Linked DNA regions of Homo sapiens. The protein of the gene in region 1 purifies or fractionates together with the protein of each later gene. This does not show direct contact. Each region holds a gene or a part of one and is shown on either strand. Other genes may lie near its edges.

Region 1 (12,692 bases):
CCAGACAAGTGTGAGGGTTTCCCAGCTCAGACAGCACCCGCCCAGTGAGAGCCAGCACATGTCCTCTCTGTTCTGGAGGGTTTAGTTGGAGGATAGTTCAGTTTTGGGGTAGGGAGGCAAGACCACTTGCCCAGTCCCAGGTGTATTTTCCAGAATGTGTATCTGCCAGGGCAGGATGGTCTATGAACAAAGGCTTGGAATAGCTGTCTGTCCTCAGGCATAGCTGGGATTCCAGAAGACCCAGGCCTCACCCAGGCGGGCAGGGGCGGGGCTCAGGGTACCGTCCTGGCATGTTCTAGGCATGCCTCTGGCCCAGCAAGGAGGGAACACGGTGAAGCAACTGCCACTCCAGCGACCAGCGCCTTCCACTGCCCCAGGCCCCAGCTCCAGAGGTCCCACAATGCTTCCATTGTCCACTGCTCTGCCCGGCTGCCCCCCAGGGAGCAGCTCAGAGCCAAGAACCTGGGCAGGGCCCTGATTCCTGGGGCACAGACTGGGTAGAAGAGAGAAGAGCAGAGTGGTCAGATTCACAGAAAACAGCCATGGAACTTGGAGAATTCCACCCTAAGAATCCTAGAATCGGCTGGGCAGGGTGGCTTATGCCTATAATCCCAATATTTTGGGAAGCCAAGGCATGTGGATCATGAGGTCAGGAGTTCAAGACCAGCCTGGCCAACATGGTGAAACCCCGTCTCTACTAAAAATACAAAAATTAGCCAGACGTAGTGACGAGTGCCTGTAATCCCAGCTACTTAGGAGGCTGAGGCAGGAGAATCACTTGAACCCAGGAGGTGGAGGTTGCAGTGAGCTGAGATATGCCATTGCACTCTAGCCTGGGTAACAGAGTGAGACTCTGTCTCAGAAAAACAAAAAACAAAAAACCCCACAATGTATTGTCATTAACAATAGTCACCATAGGCAGGGTGCCGTGGCTCACGCCTGTAATCCCAGCACTTTGGGAGGCCAAGGCAGGTGGATCACGATGTTAGGAGATCGAGATCATCCTGGCTAACATGGTGAAACCCCGCCTCTACTAAAAATACAAAAAAATTAGCCGGGCAAGGTGGTGTGCGCCTGTATTCCCAGCTGCTGGGGAGGTTGAGGCAGGAGAATGGCATGAACCCGGGAGGCAGAGCTTGCAGTGAGCCGAGTTCGCACCACTGCACTACAGCCTGGGCGACAAAGCAAGACTCCATCTCAAACAAACAAACAAACAAACAATAGTCACCACATTGTACAATAGATCCTTTGAACTTATTCCTCCTATCTAACTGAAATTTTGCACCCTTTGACCAACATCTCCCCAACCACTCCCCCTACCCACCAGCCCCTGGTAACTACCATTCTACTAGCTATTTCTTTCTTTTCTTTTCTTTTTTTTTTTTTGAGACAGGGTCTTAATCCATCACCCAGGCTTGAGTGCAGTGGTGCAATCACAGCTCACTGAAACCTCCACCTCCCTGGCTCAAGCGATCCTCCTGCCTCAGCCTCCCAAGTAGCTGGGATTACAGGTATGAGCCACCACACCAGGCCTCTACTCTCTATTTCTATGAGATCAACTTTTTTAGATTCCATGGGTGAAAAAAATAATTTTTTTCTTTTTTGAGACGGAGTCTTAAAATGTTTCTCAGCACACTGGATCCAAAGTAAGGATGATGAGATTCTATGTTGGGAAAACATTTAAACCTTGGCCTTTTTTTTTTTTCGAGATGGAGTTTCGCTCTTGTTGCCCAGGATGGAGTGCCATGGCGCATCTCAGCTCACTGTAACCTCCACCTCCCGGGTTCAAGCGATTCTCCTGCCTCAACCTCCTGAGTAGCTGGGATTACAGGCATTTGCAACCATGCCTGGCTAATTTTGCATTTTTAATAGAGATGGGATTTCACCATGTTGGCCAGGCTGGTCTCGAACTCCTGACCTCAGGTGATCTGCCCACCTCGGCCTCCCAAACTGCTGGGATTACAAGGTGTAAGCCACCGTGCCGGCCTGTTTTTATTTTTTTTGTTGTTGTTTTGTTTTGTTTTTGAGACGGAGTTTCACTCTATCACCAAGGCTGGAGTGCAGTGGCACCATCTTGACTCACTGCAACGTCTCCCTTCTGAGTTCGAGCAATTCTCCTGCCTCAGCCTCCAGAGTAGCTGGGCTTACAGGCGCCCGCCACCACCCCTGGCTAATTTTTTTTTTATTTTATTTTTTGAGATGGAGTCTTGCTCTGTCGCCCAGGCTGGAGTGCAGTGGCACGATCTTGGCGCACTGCAAGCTCTGCCTCCCGGGTTCACGCCATTCTCCTGCCTCAGCCTTCTGAGTAGCTGGGACTACAGGCGCCCGCCACCATGCTCGGCCAATTTTTGTATTTGTTTTAGTAGAGACGGGGTTTAACCATGTTAGCCAGGATGGTCTCAATCTCCTGACCTCATGATCTGCCCACCTCGGCCTCCCAAAGTGCTGGGATTACAGGCATGAGCCACCACGTCTGGCCTAATTTTTGTATTTTTAGCAGAGATGGGGTTTCACCATGTTGGCCAGGCTGGTCTTGAACTCCTGACCTCAAATGATCTGCCCGCCTCAGCCTCCCAAAGTGCTGGGATTACAGGCGTGAGCCACTGCACCCGGCCAAGTTCTTGTTTTTAATCTTGCTTTTGTACCTCCCTCCTGCAAAGCCATGCTACAAAGCCTGTTGGCTGGAAGAATGGTGTGTGGAGAAACACGACCGTCTGCCTCAAACTGTCAAGGGCTTCCTTTGGGTTCCCGTGGTTCCTCTGGTTTCCTTTTCCCCGCCTTTATTAGGCTACAGGCAGAATTGTTTATGGAACTGTTTCCTTCCCTGGCCTAGCCAGTCCTTCCCTGCCAGGATCCTGCCCCATGGCTAGACACCTGCAGCTGTTACCTGGGAAGAAATCAGAAAGGATTCAGCCAGATGCAGGGGCTTGTGCATATAACTTCAGCATTTTGCGAGGCCAAAGCAGGTGGATTGCTTGAGTCCAGGAGTTCAAGATCAGCCTGGGCAACATAGTGAGACTCCCGTCTCTACAAAAAATAAACAAAATTATCTGGGTGTGGTGGTGCATGCCTGTTAGTGCCAACTGCTCGGGAAGCTGAGGTGGGAGGATCGCTTGACTCCAGGAGGTGGAGGCTGCAGTGAGCCGTGATTGTGCCAGTGCACCCAGCCTGGGAGACAAAGTGAAACCCTGTCTCAAAAAAAGAGAGAAAGGATTCAAACTCTACCTATACTGACAGCTCTCACCTGTTTGCATTCAGCTTGCTTCCCTGGGAGTTAGGTGTTCTTCAGCCTAAATGATGTTACCATCTCAAAGAGGTGTTCCCTGGCTATGCTATCTGTCCCCATCATTCTCTGTCACAGCACCAGTCACCACCTGAGGTTCTCCTTGTTTTTGTTTTGTTTTGTTTTGAGACAGGGTCTCACTCTGTTGCCCAGACTGGAGGACAATGGCACGATCTTGGCTCACTGCAACCTCCGCCTCCCCAGGCTCAAGTGATTCTCCTGTCTCAGCCTCCCGAGTAGCTGGAATTACAGGCACACACCACACCCAGCTAATTTTTGTATTTTTAGTAGAGATGGGGTTTCACCATGTTGACCAGGCTGGTTTCAAACTACTGACCTCAAATGATCCACCCGCCTCAGCCTCCCAAAGTGCTGGGATTACAGGCGTGAGCCACTGCGCCCAGCCTGTTTTTTGTTTTTTGTGTTTTTTGAGACAGAGTCTCACTTTGTCGCCCAGACTGGAGGGCAGTGGCGCAGTGTCAGTTCACTGCAACCTCTCCTCCCTGGTGCAAGCAATTCTCCTGCCTCAGCCTCCTGAGTAGCTGGGATTACAGGTGTGTGCCACCACACCTGGCTAATTTTTGTATTTTTAGTAAAGACGGATTTTCACCATGTGGGCCAGGCTGGTCTTGAATTCCTGACCTCAAGTGATCCACCTGCTTCAGCCTCCCGAAGTGCTGGGATTACAGGGTGTGCCACTGTGCCCGGCCTCCTTGTTGTTTACTTGTTTACAGCTCCTGGCCCCCAACAGGTGCTCAGTAAATATTGTTGAATCCATGCTTGACTATAAATGTGTGAACAAGGTGTGGAAGGCTGTTTCACACCGACAACTGCAGCTACTTCTTAGGAGGGGACTAGAGTTGAAGGAGACAGTCAAACTGGAACTTTAGATTTATTTTTAAATTTTTGATAAGAATGATGTATTCAGGCTGGGCATGGTGGCTCATGCCTGTAATCCCAGCACTTTGGGAGGCTGAGGTGGGCACATCACTTAAACTCAGGAGTTTGAGATCAGCCTGGCCAACATGGCGAAACTGTGTCTCTACTAAAAATACAAAAATTAGCTGAGCTTGGTGGCCCATGCCTATAATCCCAGCTACTAGGGAGGCTGAGGCAGGAGAATCACTTGAACCTGGGAGATGAAAGTTGCAGTGAACCGAGATCGTGCCACTGCACTCCAGCCTGGGCGAGAGAGACTCGTCTCAAAAAAAGACAGGGTCTCCCTATATTGCCCAGGCTGGTTTAGTCTTGAACTCCTGGCCTTGGCTCCCAAAGTGTTGGGATTACAGGCATGAGCCACCGTGCCTGGCCCCATTTCTTAATTGATAGTTAAAAATAAAACAAAACAGCACTGAATTAAGGGCCCAAGTCTCTCAATTCTAATCCCGAAATTATAGCATGATTTTGGGCAAGTGCCCTACTCACCTATCTCTGTGGCTTCTGATCTCACCTGTAAACACACAGACCCACCTTCCACCTGAACCCTGGATTTACAGTCTGCACAGCATTTTCTCATCCATTATCTCACCTTGTTACCCACAACCCTGGGATTCAGGCAAAGCAAGTATTATCATCCTCATTTTATAGGGTAAGAAATTGGGGTTCATGAGGGTGAGTTGTCTGGCCTGCGGTCACACACTGTGGTCGTACAGGTCCTTACTTCGAAACATTGTGAGCTGACTCAGATAATGAGTTTATAAAGCCCACAAATGGCTAATGGGGGTGACCAGGCTGTGCTGTGTAAGCTATTAGTATGGCAACAGGATCAGATATGGAGCTGTCTTCAGGGACCTAAAGGGAGCCCTTTAGGCTAGTGAGGACAGGGCTATAATCCCTCCTGGTTTCTTTTGTTTGTTTTTGGTTTTTTGTTTTTTAAATGGAATCTCACTCTGTTGCCCAGGCTGGAGTGCAGTGGTGCGATCTCAGCTCACTGCGTCCTCCACCTCCCGGGTTCAAGCCATTCTCCTGCTGGGATTACAGGTGTGTGCCACCACGCCCAGCTAATTTTTTGTATTTTTAGTAGAGATGAGGTTTCACCGTGTTAGCCAGGCTGGTCTCGATCTCCTGACCTCGTGATCTGCCTGCCTTGGCCTCCCAAAGTGCTGGGATTACAGGCGTGAGCCAAAAAAACCCACCATCTTTGAGATGGAGTCTCGCTGTGTCCCCCAGGTTGGAGTACAGTGGCGTGATCTTGGCTCACTGCAACCTCCGCCTCCCAGGTTCAAGCGATTGTCCTGCCTCAGCCTCTCGAGTAGCTGGGACTATAGGCACGTGCCACCACGCCTGGCTAATTTTTTTATTTTTAGTAGACACGGGCTTTCACCATCTTAGCCAGGCTGGTCTTGAACTCCTGACCTCATGATCCGCCCACCTTGGCCTCCCAAAGTGCTGGGATTACAGTGAGCCACCGCGCCTGGCCCAATTTTTTGTATTTTTAGTACAGACGGGGTTTCACTATGTTGGCCAGGCTGTTCTCAAGCTCTTGACCTCAGGTGATCCACCTGCCTCGGCCTCCCAAAATGCTGGGATTACAGGTATGAGCCATGGTGCCCAACCCCGCCCCCCTTAGGTTTTAATGAGAGTCCTGGGTGGTCTTTGAAGGCCTAGGTGGATGCTGGTGTCAGGATCCTGAACCCAAGTCCCTGATTTCATAAAAAGCATCCGGAATCCTGCTTTCCTGCCACTGTTATCCCACAGGGGACAGGGCAGGAGTTGGCAGCTCAGGGCTGGTGAGAAGTCCAGAGGGCTAGCCAGGCACTCTGGCCATGCTCTTCCTAGGTGGCCTGAGAGTCCATATACTGAGCCAAGATGGCGGCCTTCCAGTTGCAGGAGTGTTAGGCCAGCCCAGATTGGCAAGCTGGGTTCTCCAGGCCCTGGGCCAGTATTCTGGACTGGGACTCAGTGGACTTTGAAGAGGTAGAATTCCCTAAGTCGGCCTCTCTCCTTGATAATTTACCCAGAATGGCCCAGATGACAATCTGGGTACAAAATATTTCAGTCCATTTCATCATGTTTACCAAGTACCAGGAGTCAATAGAATTTATGAGTGATAACTAAAGGGTAAGGCACTTTACATCTTAATCCTCTCAGCCACCTTGTAAAGCAGGTATTATCTCCATTTTTAAGTCGTGGAAACTGAGGTCCAGGGAGGCACAAGATCACATGACTAAGGGAGTGGGGAAAGCCAGGATTGGAGATTGGGTTAATAGGGCTCCAAAATGCCTGATCTTTCCACTCCCCTGAGTGCTCAGGGGTGATGAAGATGACTAAGACCCTGTTCCTTCCCTTGGGAGGGAGCGAAATACCCACTCCAGCTAACTATTGCATGGGTCAGGGTGACATCACCACCTCTGCAGCAGATGGAGGCTGATTCATCTGTGGGAGAGTCAGGAGGGGCCTCTGCGGAAGGGTCGGCTGGCTGGAAGGGTTGGCTGGCTGGAAGGGTCGGTTGGCTGGCGGGGGTTTTGAAGACGGCAAAGATAGAGAATGAGCCTTGGGGAGGTTCCAGGGCCAGATACAAACTGCCTGTATGCCTCCCAGGCAGGGGCCTCCTTGGCCTAGGTCCTTCCCATAGGAACTCAAACCACCACCACACTAACCATGGCTGAGGGGACCCGGCAGGCCGCAGTGGGGAGGGACGAGATCCCTGAGCTTACACAGGGGCTGAGGGGAGCTCAGTGAATCACCTAGGGGACACCTGGACCAAAGGTGGCGGAGGGGCGCATGGGTCTCCCTGCCAAGCTATGGGGGAGGGGATGGTGGACATGACAACTTCCAGCTCAGCGGTGCTTTAGGGTGGGGAGCCGGGATGAGGGAAGCTGGTGGCTATCCGGGGGGGGGTGCTCTGAGGTCTGCAGGGGAACTGCCTCCCCAAAGTTTCAAGCTAGGGGTGGAAGGGGGGATTTGCGGTCATTAGGAGCGGGAAGGAGGCCGGATGGGAGCACGAGGTGTCCCGCCTCCAAAGGGTGGAGGGCTCCCGGTGGGTGGCGCGGCGGCGGCCGCGGCGGTGAAGTCATCGTGGGGAGTGGTCCGCTTGCGGCGGGTGCGGGGGCTTCGCGGGCACCCAGTGGAGCAGCGGGAGCCCGGCGCCGTCGAGGGGCGGGCGATGGGGCGCCGGCCCGTCTTGGTAGGGGTGGGCTCCGCACTGGAGGCGGAGCTGCTGCTGGGTGGGGCGCGCCTCCGGCGCGGACGGAGGCGGCGGGACGCCCGCTCCCACGACCGGCCCACAATGAGGCGAGCGGGCAGCGCGGAGTAGGCGGCGGCCGGCCGGGCCGGGCCACGCGGCGGCGCTGCTCGGGCAGGTTAGGGCAGGGCCGCGGGGCGCCCGAGCGAGGACACCGCGGCCCCGCCTCCGCCCCTCCCCTCGCCTGCCGGTCGGCGCCCGAGCTCGGAGCCGCAGCCGCAGCCGGAAACCGGGCCCGCGCGGCGGCCGCCGTCCCGGCCAAGCCGGGGCCCCGAAGCCAGAGCCGGAGCCGGGCGGGCCGCGGGGTCATGGCTGGGCCGCGGGGCGCGCTGCTGGCCTGGTGCCGCCGCCAGTGCGAGGGCTACCGCGGCGTGGAGATCCGCGACCTGAGCAGCTCCTTCCGGGACGGCCTGGCCTTCTGCGCCATCCTGCACCGGCACCGGCCCGACCTGCTGTGAGTGCGGGGCCCCGGGCGAGCGGGCGGCGCGGGGCGGGCTGGGGCCGCGACCGCCGCCCCCCCTCAGTAACACGAAGCCCGGGCGGTGACAGGCGCCGCCCCCGGACACGGAGACGCCGACCCCCCCGACGGCCCCGGACGCCGGGCGGGTCCCTGAGACCCCGGCCCAGGGCGCCCCTCCCCCGCCCGGCCGCCCTGACCCCGCCCGTGGGATCCCGAACTCTCCCCCGAGGCTGGTCCCTCCGCGGGGACACTGGCCCCGCCCACAAAGCGCTGATTTCCGCCGAGGATCGCTGAACCCCTAAGCCCTTGACCTCTTTGAAGGGGTGTTGAGCCCTCTTTGGGGGCCCTGGGCCTCTCCTACCCTAAACTCTTCTCCACGGGCTCGCCGGGCCTCCCCTCTCCCCCGAGGCTTCCCACTCGGGGTGGCCCCTTGCTCCGGGTGTGCAGGTGAACCCCCACTTCTCTGACCCCCAAATAGGAGCTTGTCTCCGGACAGTAGCACAGTTCCCGGCACAGAGGAGACCTCGGCTAACAGGTGTTGGATGAATGGATGTACAGACCCTGTGCTTTCCCCACGCCCCCCAACTTAGGACGCAGCCCTGCCTCCCGGGTGTGTGCTCGATGGCCCTGCAGCCCTCCTCAGTGGGGCACGCAGGTGGGGCGCGCAAGAGGAGTCACAGGCCGGCAATGTTGGGAAGACTCCTAGGATCCGATTGATAGACACCAACCGGGTGCTGCAGGTTGTGAAATGGCCCCTTCCTGCCCAGAGCTGCCCAATGAGGTTCTCATGGGAAAATGCATTCAGACTCCCCGGAACAGTTGACTTGGAGCCTCTGTCTTTGCTCTCTCTGCCTTGAGCCCTGGAACCTCTCCTCCTTTCGTCCCTTCATTCCTAAAACACTGGGTGAGTTTATCTGGTGCCATTCCTTGCACTTCAGGTCTCACCTGTGAATCAGGGAGGAGAGTTCTGGTCCCTACCCCTTTCGCATGCAGCCCTCTTGCCAGGGCTCCCCCAGCCTGGCAGATGGAGGCTTTCTGTGCCTGTTCCACCTCCAGATTTGCACTGTCCGAGGGCAGCATGTGGGAAGGCTTCTAAGGGATTGCCTCAGGATTCCATGATGCAGGTGCACCTGGTTTACCTGTATGTACCCTGCAGTACCGTGTCTGTGGGTGGTGGCTTGGGCCCTGGAGGAGAGGGTTTTGGGGCTGTGGATACAGAAGGGAACAAGATGAGGTGGTCATGTAGGTGGGCCCCTGCCCGCTGTGGGGCATGTGACACCCATACTAATGGAAGCACAAGGTTGATGCCTGGTTGCCCAGGAGCAGGGGGTAGAAGGATGGAGGAAAAGGGCACCAGGGTTAGACCTGGGCATTGGAAGGGAGGGCCCAAGGGGTCTTCTGTTTTGTTTGAGGGGCAGGAGTGAGGCAGGAAGCAGGGACAAACCCAGTGTGGGAGGGGACTTGGGTGTGAAGTGAAGCCATTTGGTGGGCCTGAGCCTGGTGGCATCAAAGTAAATAAAGGCCGCCTGGTTTGTGTTTAGCTTCTCCATGTCTTAGGCGCATGGCCTTGGGTCCTCATGGGCTCTCTCCAGGCATCAGTGTCCTCATCTGTGAGGTGGGATTGATAATGTGACACAGCTCACAGAAATGTGAGGATTGCATGAGATAACAAGCATTCATTTAACATTAGTTACTGTGAGTAACTAATGTTACTTTTTTTTTTTTTAATGTTTTTTATTTTTTTGAGATGGGGTCTCACTCTGTCACCCAGGCTGGAGTGCAGTGGCACAGTCATGGCTCACTGCAGCCCCCACCTCCCGGGCTCAAGCAATCCTCCCACCTCAACCTCCCTAGTAGCTGGGACCACAGGCACACGCCACCACGCCTGTCTAATTTGTTTGTATTTGTAGAGATGGGTTTTCACCATGTTGCCCAGGCTGGTCTTGAACTCTTGAGCTCAAGTAATCTGCCTACCTCAGCCTCCCAAAATGCTGGGATTACAGGCATGAGCCACCATGCCTGGCCCAATAACAATGTTTGATTTCTTCATTTATTCAACCAGTATTTGTAGAGTCATATTGCTCTGTGCTGGACACTGTACCTGGTAATGGAAGTACCAATCGACAAAACAGGCAACCCTACACGCTCTCCCACACCTGTAGGGGAAACGTGTATAAACGATGATGGCAATTCCATGTACCCTATCAGAGGGCTGGGGGTGGGAGACCTCCTAGGGAGAATATAGTCTTCAAGGAGATGGCAGGAGCCAGGTGAGGGCTGCTGGGTGGACGTTCTGGCATGGGACCCCATCTGAGCAAAGGCAAGGGGCGGGAGGTGTGTGCAAAGCTGGAGGCTGTGTAGCTGAGTGGGGAGCACAAGGTAGCGAGTTGGGAGATGCAGTTGGGACAGATGGCTGACAGCTGCTTTTGCTGGCTAAGGAGCATGGATAGGGGCCTCAGGGAACCATGCAGGGTTTTTTTTGTTTTTGTTTTTGTTTTTTTGAGATGGAGGCCTGTCACCCAGGCTGGAGTGCAGTGGCGTGATCTCGGCTCACCACAACCTCTGCCTCCCGGATTCAAGCGATTCTCCTGCCTCAGCCTCCCAAGTAGCTGGGATTACAGGCACGCACCACCATGCCTGGCTAATTTTTGTAGTTTTTAGTAGAGATGGGGTTTCACCATGTTGGCCAGGCTGGTCTCGAACTCCTGACCTCAGGTGATCCGCCTGCCTCGGCCTCCCAAAGTGCTGGGATTACAGGCGTGAGCCACCATGCCTGGCCGAGCCACGTAGGTTTTTTTTTTTGAGACGGAGTCTCGCTCTGTCAGCCAAGCTGGAGTGCAGTGGCATGATCTCTGCTCACTGCAAGCTCCACCTCTTGGGTTCACGCCATTCTCCTGCCTTAGCCTCCCGAGTAGCTGGGACTACAGGTGCCCGCCACCATGCCTGGCTAATTTGTTGTATTTTTAGCAGAGACGGGGTTTCACTGTGTTAGTCAGGATGGTCTCAATCTCCTGACCTCGTGATCCACCTGCCTTGGCCTCCCAAAGTGCTGGGATTATAGGTGTGAGCCACCGCGCCTGGCCAACCACGTAGGTTTTAAGCAAGGGAGGGATGTGGCTGGAAAAAATGTGCAGGGGAGGGTGGCTCCGCTTCTGAGATCCAGAATCATGTCCAGGCATTCATTTGCAATATTGCCAGCGCATTGCACAGGAGAGAAGCTGAGGCCCAGGTCCCACATAATGTGTAGGGAAGTCCTCAGTGATGGGTTGGGAGGATCTCCGTGAGAATAGGAGTGGCCTAGAGTGAGGGCAAGAATCATCTCCTAAATTGGTTCAGGCTTCTGGGGCTGTGGGCCCTGCCTGGGTGAACCCAGTGTTGGCCCAGGGCTCTGCTGGGACGAGGGTTGTGGGGGCTGGGCCATCCCTCCGCACCACCCGAAATCCAGACATGCTTAAGCTCCTTTGAGGGCGTGGACCATGTGGGTTTCATTTCTGTGTCCTTCATCTTCCCCAGAGCCAAGTAGAACTCCGCAGGCCTCTGAAGACTCTCAGAAAATATATGTGTTACCAAAACACAGATGTTAATTAGGGACAGAGATGGGGGTGGAAGAAAACCTGCAGGATCCTGAAGGTTTTTTACAGTTTTCACACTGTTTTCAACATTGATTCATTCAACAAACATTTACGGAGCATCTTCGAAATTTGGGGAACTGTGTAGGGAGTTGGGGGCACAGAGTAGCTAGAATGTGACCCCAGCCTTCTTGGAACACTTCTGGGGTGACCGAAATAAACGGCTGAGACAAGTTGCTTTTGTCTCATTTGGTCTTGGAAAAAGCCTCTGTTGGGGGCTGGGTACCATGGTGTTTTCCTCGCCCTGTTGCAGTGTCCTGAACCGGACCGGGAGACAGAGGTTTCGAGAGGTGAAACACCTTGCTAAGGTCGCACTCTGAGGCAGTGGCAGAAAAGGGGAGCTAGGGAGGCAGCCCAGGGGAGAAGGAAGTGGCCTGGTCAGAGTGGCAAAAAGGGAGCTGGTGCCCAGACATAGTCACCTTGCCTCTCCCCGTCCACCCAGCCCTGGGGCACCAGACCCCTTCCAAGGTCCTCAAGCAACTCTTTCCTGCCCAGGGTTCACAGTCCCTGGCCCCTGCCTGGAAAAGTGTTGGGGGCAGGAGGAGGGGGCTGTGCTTACCTGGCTCCCTCATATCTGCGAGGCCTGCCCTTTACCAAGCTGGGACTCCACCAGCTTGGGAGGTGGTATTAGTGCTTTTCCTGATTTGCACATGGGACAATGAATGCTGGAAGGACTGCTGATCCCCCCAACCCCATGGTCACATGGGAATTCAGCCCTCAGAGGCGGCGTGGCCTGCTCTTGCCTCTGCCCACCCATCTCCGGCAGTCAGGGCTGCAGTTTTCAGCCATAGAAGGGCAAGGCTGCATGCGGATGCACCCAGGAGGCTGCCCGGCGGGAAGACTGAGCTGTCTCTGCTGGTTTCAGCGGCCTGGAGTGGGGAGGGAGGAGGGGGATAAATAAAGCCTGCAGGCCAGCCAGCTGTCCCGTGCTGGGGCCCCCAGACAGGCCCTGCCACCTCTCACCTTTCCTAGTTTAGAAAATCCCTCACTGCTTCCCCAATGGAGGCTGCCCCAGGAGTGGCCCAGTGGGGCCAACCAGCTGTTCTATGCCAGCAGCTCCGGAGTATGTACATTTCCACTCTGGTTCAAACTTGTTCTTCTATTCACGGCCCCATTAAGAAAAACATTCATCTGCAG
Region 2 (12,440 bases), on another chromosome or scaffold:
GATTTCCAACTTCAGGATATTAAGAAATGTTCACTACAAAAGTTCTCTTTGTATATATATATTTTTGAGATGGAATCTCGCTCTGTTGCCCAGGCTGGAGTGGAACAGCGTGATCTTGGCTCACTGCAACCTCCACCTCCTGGTTCAAGCGATTTTCCTGCTTCAGCCTCCCGAGTAGCTGGGATTACAGGTGTGCACCACCACGCCTGGCTAATTTTTGTATTTTTAGTAGAGACGGGGTTTCACCATGTTGGCCAGGCTGGTCTCGAACTCCTGACCTCAGGTGATCCACCCACCTTGGCCTCCCAAAGTGCTGGGATTACAGGCATGAACCACCATGCCCGGCTACTTTGTATATCTTGAACTTCAGAGTAATTGTGAAGTCAAGTAAGTAACTAAAATAAGAAAGGATGAAAAACAGAGTGGTGATTACAAAAAGAAAATGACTATGTAGCAACGGAAAATCCTATTAAAGAAAACAGACTTCTACTGTAATCTTGTAGAAGTTGAAATTAAATAAAGGGGGTAAGCAGATACATTCCATAGCTCAGCTGAGGGCCCGTGTGTGGACACATGCTGGACACAGCCAAAAACATTTTGTGAGGATTTGGATGCTAACCTAAGTACCTAATGCAAGGTCTGACATGCTGAGGTCAGACAATGTCAACTTCCCATCTGCACAAGGGTCGTTTAACAGAAGCATGCACTGTGCAGCCTGGCTACCGCTGAGAGGATGGTCTTGGAGAGATGACGCTAAACCTTTCTGTCACCAGCAAACTTGTTTATGTACTTATTTTTCAAATGAAGACAATTGAAATGATTTACAAGATTCTTAGAGATAACTTGAGAAACCCGAAGTTTGGGATCCGTTATTTAGAATCCTGGGCTTTAACCGCTGTGATGAGCAAGTGGTAAGATACCAACTCCTTTGCCTCCGACAGTGAATGCCTGGCTTGGTGTGGGTGGGCTGGGGAGGGCCAGGGCTGAGGGAGCACCCTTGGACTGGAGGAGCTGCCACGTTCCATCAGGGAGAACCAGCTGCTCACCAGCTGTCCTTGCATCATTTCCTTGGCCTCCACCTTCCTGGAAATTCTGGATTGGGCCTATGAGTATGTTCTCTATGTATACCTATGTATACCTCTCTCTTCTGTGCTCAGGCTCACCCCACCCTGGAGCCACCCCAAGGGAAGCAGGAGGCCCCCACAGCTGCTCAGTCTCCCAAACACAAGGGCTTCTTATTGAGACCACCCCCTTCCCTGCTCTGGGGCCTAGCCCTGGAGCAGCTGCCTAGGCCTCTGTAGGGCTTCCCAAGAGCCCTCACCACGTACTAGTAAGGTACCTCTGAGCCGCCAGGCCCCAGCTCAGGGAGGGCTTAGTTCCCGCTCATCTGGCTGACTCCTCACCCACTCCCTGCCGCCCACCCCCCGAGGTTGGGCACACTGTTCCTGAACACTCCCTGGTGCCCAGGGCCTGCTTTACCTGCACTGAACTCAGCTGATGTGCACCTGCCACACCCTTCACCCACTGAGTGTCACCTGATCCCTCGTCTCAGGCCTCATGGTGTTTGCTGGCTGATGACCGAGGTGGCCCCGACACTAGGCCTTCACAGCCCTGATAAACCTGGGGCTGATCTTGTGCCAGGTCTCAACTCCCTCCTCCTTCCGCCAGCTTGGTGCCACCTGAGTCATGACCCTTAGGTGACCTGCTCACACTGCAGCTGCTCTCGGTCCCAGCCTCCACTTCTAGGAAGTTCTGTTAGCGAGGTTTGTGGAAGTCTCCTGTTACGCTGCCTCTGCATGTCCACCCGCGTCCTGCCCTTCCTGGTGCGCCCTAAACAATAACCCAGGGCCAACTTCTGTGCACAGACCTGCTTTCAGAAGTTCATCAAGTTGGCCAGGCACGATGGCTCATGCCTGTAATCCCAGCACTTTGGGAGGCTGAGGCAGGTGGGTCACTTAAGGTCAGGAGTTTGAGACTAGCCTGGCCAATGTGGTGAAACCCTGTCTCTACTAAAAATACAAAAATTAGCTGGGTGTGGTGGTGTGCTCCTATAGTCTCAGCTACTCGGGAGGCTGAAGCAGGAGAATAGCTTGAACCCGGGAGGCAGAGGTCACAGTGAGCTGAGATTGCCCCACTGCACTCCAGCCTGGGTGACACAGCAAGAATCCATCTCAAAAAAAGAAAAAAAAATTCATCAAGTCACAAGGTAAATTATAATCCTTAGCATCATGAAATACTGAATCTGGAAGTGACCCCCCAATATCTACTTTAATTCCTGGTTCCAGGACATCCATGTGACTCACTCAAGGTCATACAGCTAGTTGGTAGATACAGAGCTGGCACTAGCATCCAAGTGCCTCGTTCCTGTCCCTAAAGAACTAATGACTCCCTGTGGGTATGCCCTGTGGGTATGCATTAATAATCTTACTGAAGTTGTTCAAAATCTGGAATTCAAAATGAACTGTGTCCCATAGAATGAGTCTGGAAAACTTTGATCTGAGGTTTGACTTCTGCTCGTGCCTAATTCACTGAGAGGCTTTGGAAGGGTCCTTTATTCTCCCTTTCCCCACACATCAAACACGGACACAATGATGGCACACAAACGTCGGGACACCACGTGGGAATGCGGGTGAAGACTGCGAGCTGCTGGCAGGATGGCATCCTGTCATTTTCTAAAGTCTTCTGGTAAACAGACGGGACAGCTTGAATGACTAAAATCCACAGTCAGCCTCCAGAGATCACTCCTGCAATTATGTGTCAAAGGTGTCTCCAAATACATGCCAGACCCAGGGCCAGACCTGGTGGTTGTCCCTGGGGAAGGAGGTGGAAACACTTGGGTCTTCTGACCTTTATAATGAGAGAAAACTAATTGGGAAGAGGAGGAGTACGAAAGAGAAGAGGGGGACTAGACCTGGAGCTTGAAGATGAGGCTCAGGCCCCGTGACCACTGCCTACCCACTGAGCAACTTGGGGCCAGGCATGGCATCTCCACCTCAGCGTGCTCATCCACAAATTAGAAATGACAACAACATTCATCTCACAGAGTTATTATGAGAATAAAAGAGGTCATGTATTTGAATGCACTCTGCTCACTAGAAAGAGGAGCAAATGTTAACTTGTTATCAACTAATGGCCAAAGACCAACAGCTGGAGGTACAGTAATGAGAGAGAGGGCTCCCGGCTGGTTACTCCTTACCAAATAATTAATAAACTCTCTCTATTTAAATAGTAATATAATGAATTTGGGTTCCAAGTGTTTAATTTACATTGACCCCTGGGGGCTTTTGAACATTCGTATCTTGTTCAAGTCATCCTTTGCCTTGTGTAAACTTGCAGAAGCCCTAAGGCATCTAATGGGGATGACTGGGGGAAATCAAATGGATCAAAATGACAAAATGACAATTTTTCTCTAGGCTAATAACTCAATGAGCAGAAAGGAAAGTCCTTCCTTTTAAATGTATATGAATGTATATGTAGTTCACACGTACACTCTGACACAGATCTCATTGTGTCCAATGATGTGTGTGTGTGTGTGTGCCTCCAAGACTGAGACACATGTACTAAAGAGTGATACTGGCCACATCTACTCTGGGCTTGGAGGGTAACTTCAGCGAGTGCTGGATGCTGGAAGCGACCAGTGCTGGAATGAAAAGCTTCATGGAATGTGAGGATCAGGCAGTAGTTTGGGGAAGGCGGGCTGGGAAGGCATGGTGACACACTGTGCCACGCTCATCTGCAAACTTAACGCAACCTGCTGGAGACCTGCGGCTGGAAGCCCAGCTCTGGAAACCTGCATAGAGTATTTAAAGCCAGGGTATCAGCACGTTTATAAAGTGGGTTTATGATAATATAAAAAATTCAGTTAATAAGCCTGAGACCCAAAAGATGAACCCATGGGGTAACAAGAGTGTGAGACTGTGAGAGGCAGAGAAGGGCAGCTGACTTGAGCAAGGGTTTGTTATTCTGCTCAGATCAAAACTGGCACCAATGGCACGTGTAATTCCGTGCAGCCTTAAAGGGGACCGGAGGGGGCTGCACACTTGTCTGAGGTCAACCTTCAAAGAGACAGGCTTCCATTTATGGGCTCAAGCACTGACACACACACATCCACAGTAGCTCAGGGCTGCTGACTGAGTTATTTTTAGAGCCCTGCCGAGGACTAGGCAATACCAGGATCTTCATGATCCATTATATCATGATTCTCACACGCTTTAGCCTGAATCCATTTGGTGCACAAAAAATGCCTCATTTCTTTACAGGAGAATTTTTTTTTTTTTTTTTTGAAATGGAGTCTTGCTTTGTCGCCCAGGCTGGAGTGCAGTGGCACGATCCTGGTTGACTGCAACCTCCAACTCTTGGGTTCAAGTGATTCTCCTGCCTCAGCCTCCTGAGTAGCCAGGATTACAGGCGCCCACCTCCACGCCCAGCTAATTTTTGTATTTTTTGTAATTTTTTTGTAATTTTTTTTGTAATTTTTGTATCCAGCACTTGCTGAAGTTACCCTCCAAGCCCAGAGTAGATGTGGCCAGTATCACTCTTTAGTACATGTGTCTCAGTCTTGGAGACACACACACACACACACACACACACATCATTGGACACAATGAGATCTGTGTCAGAGTGTAAGTGTGAACTACATATACATTCATATACATTTAAAAGGGAGGACTTTCCTTTCTGCTCATTGAGTTATTAGCCTAGAGAAAAACTGTCATTTTGTCATTTTGATGACATTTAGTAGAGACGGGGTTTCACCATGTTAGCCAGGCTGGTCTCGAACTCCTGACCTCAAGTGATCTGCCCGCCTTGGTTTCCTGAAGTGTTGGGATTACAGGTGTGAGCCACCGTGCCCAGCCTATAGACAAGAAAGCCAGGCTGTGCACATCACATGTGACTGAGAAGAGTCTACATTTGAAAGAATAAGCTAAATTCCACAGAACTACAGTGAACCTTGAAAATCACTGACCTCTCCTCTTCTTTCTCAGTTTTACTTGTTTCTTCCTCAAATGTTGCCTCATTTTTGTTGAGCAAAGATCTCCAAATGGGTGACAGCCTTTCCTATTCTTGGGCAATACGCTTCTAAAGGGTGGGGTCTGATAGTGAACTTGCATTGTTTGGGATTTGTATGAGTCTAATTTCTTTAATTTGGCTATTTTAATTATAGCTGAATAAAAGTAAATGACATGTTCCAAACCCTTTTTTGGGCTTTCCCAAAACAGCTTCCTTTAAAGAATCATGAAATGAACCCTGATTGGCATCTCAGAGTGTGAGCCGTCTTCCAAGAAGGATGTCTACTGAGATTGTAAGAAGTGATCTTTGAGGCTAACCAAAAACCCACTCTAAAGTTTCCCTGTTCCTTAAATACAGAGATGTGAAAAAAATATACAAACAGAAAAAGAAGGGAAATAAACTTCAAGAGCTCTTTGGGAAGAGTATCTATCTACTTTTCATATTATTAAAATGTCACCTTTATGACACTTCGAGTTTGATTAAAACGGCGCACTTGCTTTATCTGGATGGGCCATGAATCCTGGTTAATTATGGTGTTCTATAAATAAACATACTCCACAACCCAACTCAGACTTGACATCTCTTAGCTGACATCTGAAAACTTACCCTTTGCATGTTTTCAAAGTGTCAGCTTGATAAACCTAAACTTTGTAGGGTTTCTGTGGATGGAGACTTTTATGGAATAAATAGATTAACAGATCAGTGCAGAAAACAAGGACACAGGGAGGAGGTACTGTAGCTGCTGTTCACTCCCGATTTCAGGTGACTGCTTTCTGGACTGAGGTGTCACACTGACCGAGGTTTGAACGTATACTTTGCAGCTTACAGGCTGTGAAGCCTCGGGGACATAACTTCACCTTTCTGAGCTTCCGTTCCCTCAGGTGGGAAATGAGGACAAAAATGCCCAACTGTGTAGTTGTCAACAGGATCAAACAAAAAAACACACATAATGCAGACTACAGAGCTTTGGAACAGTTGGTGTGAAAAAGGAAAACTGGATCAAGAGAAAGGTTAATAAACCAAAATAAAAGCACTTTTGGAAAATATAAACACTCCAAAAAGAAAAACTCAGGTAAGCATCTGTCCATTTAAGCAGAAACAAGTTCAGCGGTGGAACATGAAACTGCAGGTGGCGTGAGGTCAATGTCATGAGTTAGTGGCCAAGGCCGCCGTGCTGAGTCCGGCTTCTCCTCCGGGTGAGCCCGCTTCCTGTCCCCGTTCCTCAGCATGGCACTGCCCACGAGCAACTGGCACTGAGAAGCTCCGGCTGCAAATACCCATACTTCAAACATTTTCCTTTGTGAAAAGGAACAAGCCAGATACTATTCTTAGGAAGAAAAAAACCACAAGCCTTTTTCCTGCAAGTAAGCTCAGCAAGTTTGACCGTCCCCCACTCCCTGCATCCACACAAGGGTTTTCATTATTCACAGTGTCAGAATACAGAGCAGCGTTCTGTGCCTCCAAACCCAGGCCGCGCTGGCCCGTTCAGAGGGCCCGAGGCTCAAGGATGGCAGGGAAGCTCTACGGGTTAAGGCGCTTGGCATTTCCAGCGAGCTTTCTGCTCCTTATTTATTTATTTATTTATTTATTTATTTATTTATTTATTTGAGACAGAGTCTCACTCTGTCGCCTAGGCTGGAGTGCAGTGGCACGATCTTGGCTCACTGCAACCTCCACCTCCTGGGTTCAAGCGATTCTCCTGCCTCAGCCTCCTGAGTAGCTGGGATTACAGGTGCCTGCCACCATGCCTGGCTAATTTTTGTATTTTTAGTAGAGACGGGGTTTCAATATGTTGGCCAGACTGGCCTTGAACTCCTGACTTTGTGATCCACCCGCCTCCGACTCCCAAAGTGCTGGGATTACAGGCGTAAGCCACCGTGCCCGGCCTCCTTATTTATTTATATGACTGAATACAGCAGCATCTCCAGTCACTGGGTCTTCATTTACCAATAACTGGTAAATGAAGAATGTCCATGAGCATTTAAAAATAGTTTTAAAAAATCTCAAAATCTGCAAAGGCTATGACATGAGTCACCAACTTTGGTTATAAACTAATGTGGGGTGTCACACACCTTGAAGGTTGTTCAGTTGTACCTGCTGGAGAAAGGAAACACCACAAACCAAGGGATCACCGAGTGGAAAAACAGCCTTCCTGCTACCAAGCATTAGGCCCAGGACAAGGGCGAGGGCAAAATCATTTCAGGAGAGCTGCACGTAAGTGGATTTACAAACTAGTTAGCACATCTGCCTTGCAGAACTGGAGCAAAAATGGCTTGTAGCTCTGGAAAGGAAGCCACTTGGACCAGGAAGAACAGATAAAGAAGGATGACTCACACAAGCACCACACCACTGCAGGTTAGCTGAGCCATATGGGAGGAATGCATGCACACGCACTGGGACACACGTGACAGAGAGGGACACAGGACATCGAGGTCCTGTGTGAGGGGCAGCAGCAGCCAGGACGGTGTTTGTTTTCACCCAGGCAAGAGGCTGCCCAGTGAGCACACTGGCACGAGGACAGGCTGCTAATGAGCAGCAAGAAGGAGGAAGAATTGTCCCCACCTTGGCTGTCCCCATCAGGGAAGCCCTCCCTGCCTCCTGGCCAGGCACGTAGTCACCCTTCCCAGAGCACTCATGGCAGCATCCATACCATGACTGGCACATAGCCAATCACCCAGGGAGCTTTACACACACACACACACACACACACACGCGCATGTTTACACACATGCATATTCACACAAGGCCATGTGTGCACGCACACCCCTATATCCGAGGCTCTGGGGCAGGGCCTGGGAATGTATGTTGCTTCTGATGATCAGCCAGGTTTGAACTTCACTAGGACTAGATAAAACTCTAAAGGCACTTCCAGCATTAGAGGACAATGATTTTATGAAACATGCACATATTTTTTAAAGAGCCATTTTTTTCTCTGTATTTTCTCTTGGAGGAGGGATATGCTTTTCTCTCTTTGGAGACATGAATTGACTCTGTCACTTGAGGGATGTCAGCAGGTCACCTCTCACTGCCCCATTGGGCACACACTCCTGGGGCTGCTGAAAGGCTCAGCTATGAGGCAGGCGAGCCAGGAGCCCAGGCATGCAGGCTAACAGCCCGCAGCCCAGAATGAGGATGCGGGGGTGACCCAAAACCAGCACACTCCAAGAGTAAGACTGAGCCATACTTCTTCCCAGGGCTCCCCTGGATCCAGGTGGTAACACTGGCCTTTGGTGCACGGGGACTAGCAGTGGCCTCTCAGCATCCTGTTGGTCTCACCAATGCCACCTCTTTCAGGTTTGGTTGGTTATATTCCTATCGTCCTGACATCCTAACAGCTACCATGTAGTGGGTGCACTGATTGATCCCCCTCCCTGTGCACCAGGCACTATGCCAAGTGCTCTGTCACACTGACCAACTGTCACCCCAAGTTCTTGTGAAGTGCTCTTATTAGCTCCATGGTACAGATTGGAGAACAGGGTTAGTCATCTGCCCAGGAGTGCAGAGCCAGGAGCTAGGGTGTCAGCAGGGCCACCTGACCTCGAGGCTGTATTCTTAACCTAGCGCATGTTCATTCCTTAAGCCTTCTGGAACGAAGCCTCCTCCCACCCATCTTGCCTCTGGAGAGGAGACAGCAGAGTCCCAGCCCCTGGCCTCTGTGCAAGGCATCTCCTGGCTTACCTTGGCCAGCCTCGCTCGCTTGATGAGGTCGTTGAGCTTGCGCACCGCTGCCTTCTGGGGGAGGCTCTGGATGTCTCTAAAGAGGTCCTGGGCCTCAGCCTCGAAGAGCCGGCGGTTGTCCGTGTTCTGCAGGGGCTGCGCCCAGAAGGAGCCAATGTAGACGCGCAGTACCTCGGGCGTGTTGATGACCTTGCCTAGGGACCACATGAGGGCCCCGTAGACCCGCATCAGCTGCTGCGTGTCCACTTGGTCGGCCTTGTTCAGCACGACACGGATCTTGTCGTCCTGGCCCCGGAAGGCCTTGATGGCCTCTGAGAATTCATCTGAGATGTCCAGCTTGTGAGCGTCAAAGAGCAGGATGATCCTGTCCACCCTCTCGGCAAACCACTGCAGGACCTGGCAGAAGTCATAGCCTGGGTGGAGAGAAGGACACGTCAGTGTAGCCACTGCTGCAGGAGACACGTTTAATGGGCGGCTCAGGAACAGTCTCGCTCTCCAGCAGCTGCCAGGGAGAGAGCCCTGTCTCCAACCTGGAGGCAGTGGAGGCCTGGTGACATGAAAATCACGGGCTGGATGAATCCGGGTGGGAAGGACCTGGGGAGCCCTTCCACAGGAGGAGGGAGGAAAGAGAATGGGGCTCATGGTCACTTTGGGAATTGCTGACTTTCATATCTGCGATTTCATTTAGTCCTCATGAGTGTTTTATTTCACCTAATACAGACCTTTTGCTTGATGGCAGAATTGATCAATGGTTTTATAAAAACACAGGCCATGGGTCAAAAGATCTTACTTCTGAAAAGTCTCACTTTTCTGAAAGCCCCAAATACAGAAGAAAGAGAACCAGAGGCCACCTGGCATCCCATGGGGGTATCCAGTAAGCATAACAGAAGAGGCATCGCCTTCAATTAACCCAAGTTTGTAGAGTGCTGAGGAGGTCAAAGGTTGGCCCAGCCAGTGTTGTGATCAATATTTATCTTTGGACTATTTATAACTCAGGTATATTGTGAATATTTTTTTAACATTACGTATCACAGCCATTGTGTAAAATGGTCTCTTGCCAATTTCTTTTTTTAAAATGGCCTGGCCCACAGCAAATTCTGTCCAGCCTATTCTGACCACCTCCACAAATCATGCAGCTGCATAAACACTCTTCAGCCCAAGGTCAAGGCTCTCAGGCCTTTCCCCAGGGAGGCAGATTCCCACGAAAAGCAAACAAGAGGAGGCCAAGCCCACAAAGTTGACTTTTAATCTCAGTCTGACTAGTTGCAGAAGCAGAGTCTCAATCCAGCCCAGCTAGTGCTGAGATGTCACCTGCCTGACCCCCATGCTAGGGGTCGTCTCCCCTCTTCTTTTAGATTTTGAAAACTTTCAAACATACATAAACATCTGTAAGTCATATAATGAATGCTGATGTACCTACCACATAATTTTAACAAATGTTGACACTTTGCTTTGTTTGCTATTTCAGATATGTTTTAAAACCAAGTATCGTTTCTTTAGATAACAAAATACCATACGGTGGTGAGAAGGAACTAGATCTTCACTTGTCAACACAGGTAAATCTCCAGAAAAGAACAAGAGTAAAAGCTTAGTTTCAAAAGGACATATACAGCATGATAACATTCATGTAAAATGTTAAAATACAAAATACTCAACCATCTGTGGATACAGACTATAGCACAAATACAAAAATGTCAACATCGATTGTGAGACCCTGGTTGGCTGTGGGGGTGGAGAAGGTGTGAATCCAAGGCAGAGGAAAAAGTATCTGAGGTGAATAATCTATTAGGTGAAAATAAAGAGGGTCTGCGGACTAAGGTTTCCATGCATTTGAAGAACAGGTGTTAGAGGAATAGCTGAACAAGCAAACTGGATTCAGGTCCATTTTTCATAAAGAAAACAAGACAGTTGGTAACGCTGAAGCCCCCTGTGCACCCCTCCCTGAGCCCTTCCCCCCACTAGCAGGCCGCTGTCCTGAGTGTGGTGTTTATGCCGCCACACGCGTGGATACTTCCAGTTCATGCTTTTCATTTCTCTGTTCTGTCTCACTGCGGCACTCCCTGACTCCTTGGGGATAAGGAAGACAAAGGCAGTTCTCGGAATGTGGGCCAGAGTTTATTTTCATTGCTGTCAGCAGCCAGTTTAGGTCAGAGGAATATCAAAGACCTACTGACAGGGTCACACATAGTCAAGGTTTCACTCTGAGTTCTGTCCCTGAAAGGCCAGAACAAACTGCCTCCTAGGGTAACACTAAGTGCTACTGCCATTTGAGACAGACGTGTGCACAGACAGCCCTAGCTCACAGGATTGTAGGTCCCCAGCGGATGAATGAACTGGCTGTTTGCTGGGTGCCGGGAAGATGCTTTGGAGCCACCCATAGATGGACCTGCATGGGGACTTGCTTTTCCAGGAGAGATGATTGATTCACCATGCTGACCTGACCACTCTCCCACGTGGTCTTCCTAGTGATCAGATGGGGTATCTGAAGGTTCAGAAACAGATCAAAGAAAACGCTGTGCACATGGAGTGAATGTGAGTTGCTTTTGCTGAATACCCTTCCTGTTGGGTCAGGAGGTATCCTTTATGGGTTGTGGAGGCTGAAGGTGTGGCAGAGAGTCCCTCGCCCCATTCCTTAGCAAGCTGGGGCATAAGCATGTGATCTAGAGTTAGACATTCACTTCCTTCCACCAGAGAGGAGTGCTGAACCTTGGGGAAATGACACGAAGACACAGTGAAAATAAGAATTTACTCATGGTGGTGGCGGCTTCCTAACTCTTTTCTAAGCCTAGTTCTCCAACTTTCCCATTAATCCTGTGACAAATTCTCCAAAACATTTTCTTTTCTGCTTAAATTAGTTAGAATCAGCTTCTTTGGTTTGCTATTGAAAGTGATGATAAGGCTGGGCACGGTGGCTAATGCCTGTAATTCCAGCACTCTGGGAGGCAGAGGCGGGAGGATTGTTTGAGGCTAGGAGTTTGAAACCACCTGGCAATATGGTGAGACCCTGTCTCTACAAAAAATAAAAACAAATTAACTGGGTGTGGTGGCGTATGCATGTGGGCTCAGCTACTTGGGAGGCTGAGGCAGGAAGATCACTTGAGGCCAGGAGTTTGAGGCAGTGAGCCATGGACCCACCACTATACTCCAGCCTGGGTGAGAGAGTGAGACCCTGTCACAAAAACAAAACAAAACAAAACAAACAAAACCACAATTGGTAAACAATCCTCCCCTCACCCCCATTTAAGATTTCGGAATACCTCTTACTGTCGGTTCCGAAAGAAACCTGCCACCCAAACTGAAACACAGCTGCTGCTGCTAGCTGCGCTCGCGCCAACCCTGCCGTGCTTGTGCCAACCCAGCCGTGCAGATGCAGTCTCTCTTCCTCCCAGGGCCGCCTGGGTTGAATGGTTACCTTTGATTGCAACACTTGTGTTTAAACTTTAACTTAAATTTGAGTTCCTAACAGTTAATTTAAGCATCTTTAAAAAAGATGCCATTTCAATGCTATAGTGAAATCAAAAGTTATTAGGAACAGAGCTGCCAGATTTAAGTTTACTATAAGTGACGCCAATACTCATGTCTGGAGGAACAGGTACATATCCATATTTTCTTGTGTTAAAGCAACAATGAGAGCTTAATATAGTTCGAGAAGTACAGGTAGGCAGAGCTGTGTTTGTTCTGTCCCTGAGCAGGTGTAAGAGGACGGTCTGTCACACATCAGGCAACACAATCAAAGGAGTAGAAATCACCGT

What was found.
Region 2: the proteins of MICALL1 (region 1) and EHD4 purify together in Homo sapiens (affinity purification with mass spectrometry; 2 studies listed by BioGRID and IntAct, with this or other methods). This does not show direct contact.

What each region holds. Positions count from the first base shown.
Region 1 is NC_000022.11:37,898,649-37,911,340, forward strand, and holds the start of MICALL1 (MICAL-like protein 1), read left to right. Parts: upstream 1-7,648; 5' UTR 7,649-7,774; coding exon 7,775-7,920; intron 7,921-8,182; exon of another isoform or gene 8,183-8,830; intron 8,831-12,692. UniProt on the Homo sapiens protein: Lipid-binding protein with higher affinity for phosphatidic acid, a lipid enriched in recycling endosome membranes. On endosome membranes, acts as a downstream effector of Rab proteins recruiting cytosolic proteins to regulate membrane tubulation.
Region 2 is NC_000015.10:41,910,522-41,922,961, forward strand, and holds part of EHD4 (EH domain-containing protein 4), read right to left. Parts: intron 11,221-12,440; exon of another isoform or gene 10,896-11,220; intron 9,102-10,895; coding exon 8,689-9,101; intron 1-8,688. UniProt on the Homo sapiens protein: ATP- and membrane-binding protein that probably controls membrane reorganization/tubulation upon ATP hydrolysis. Plays a role in early endosomal transport.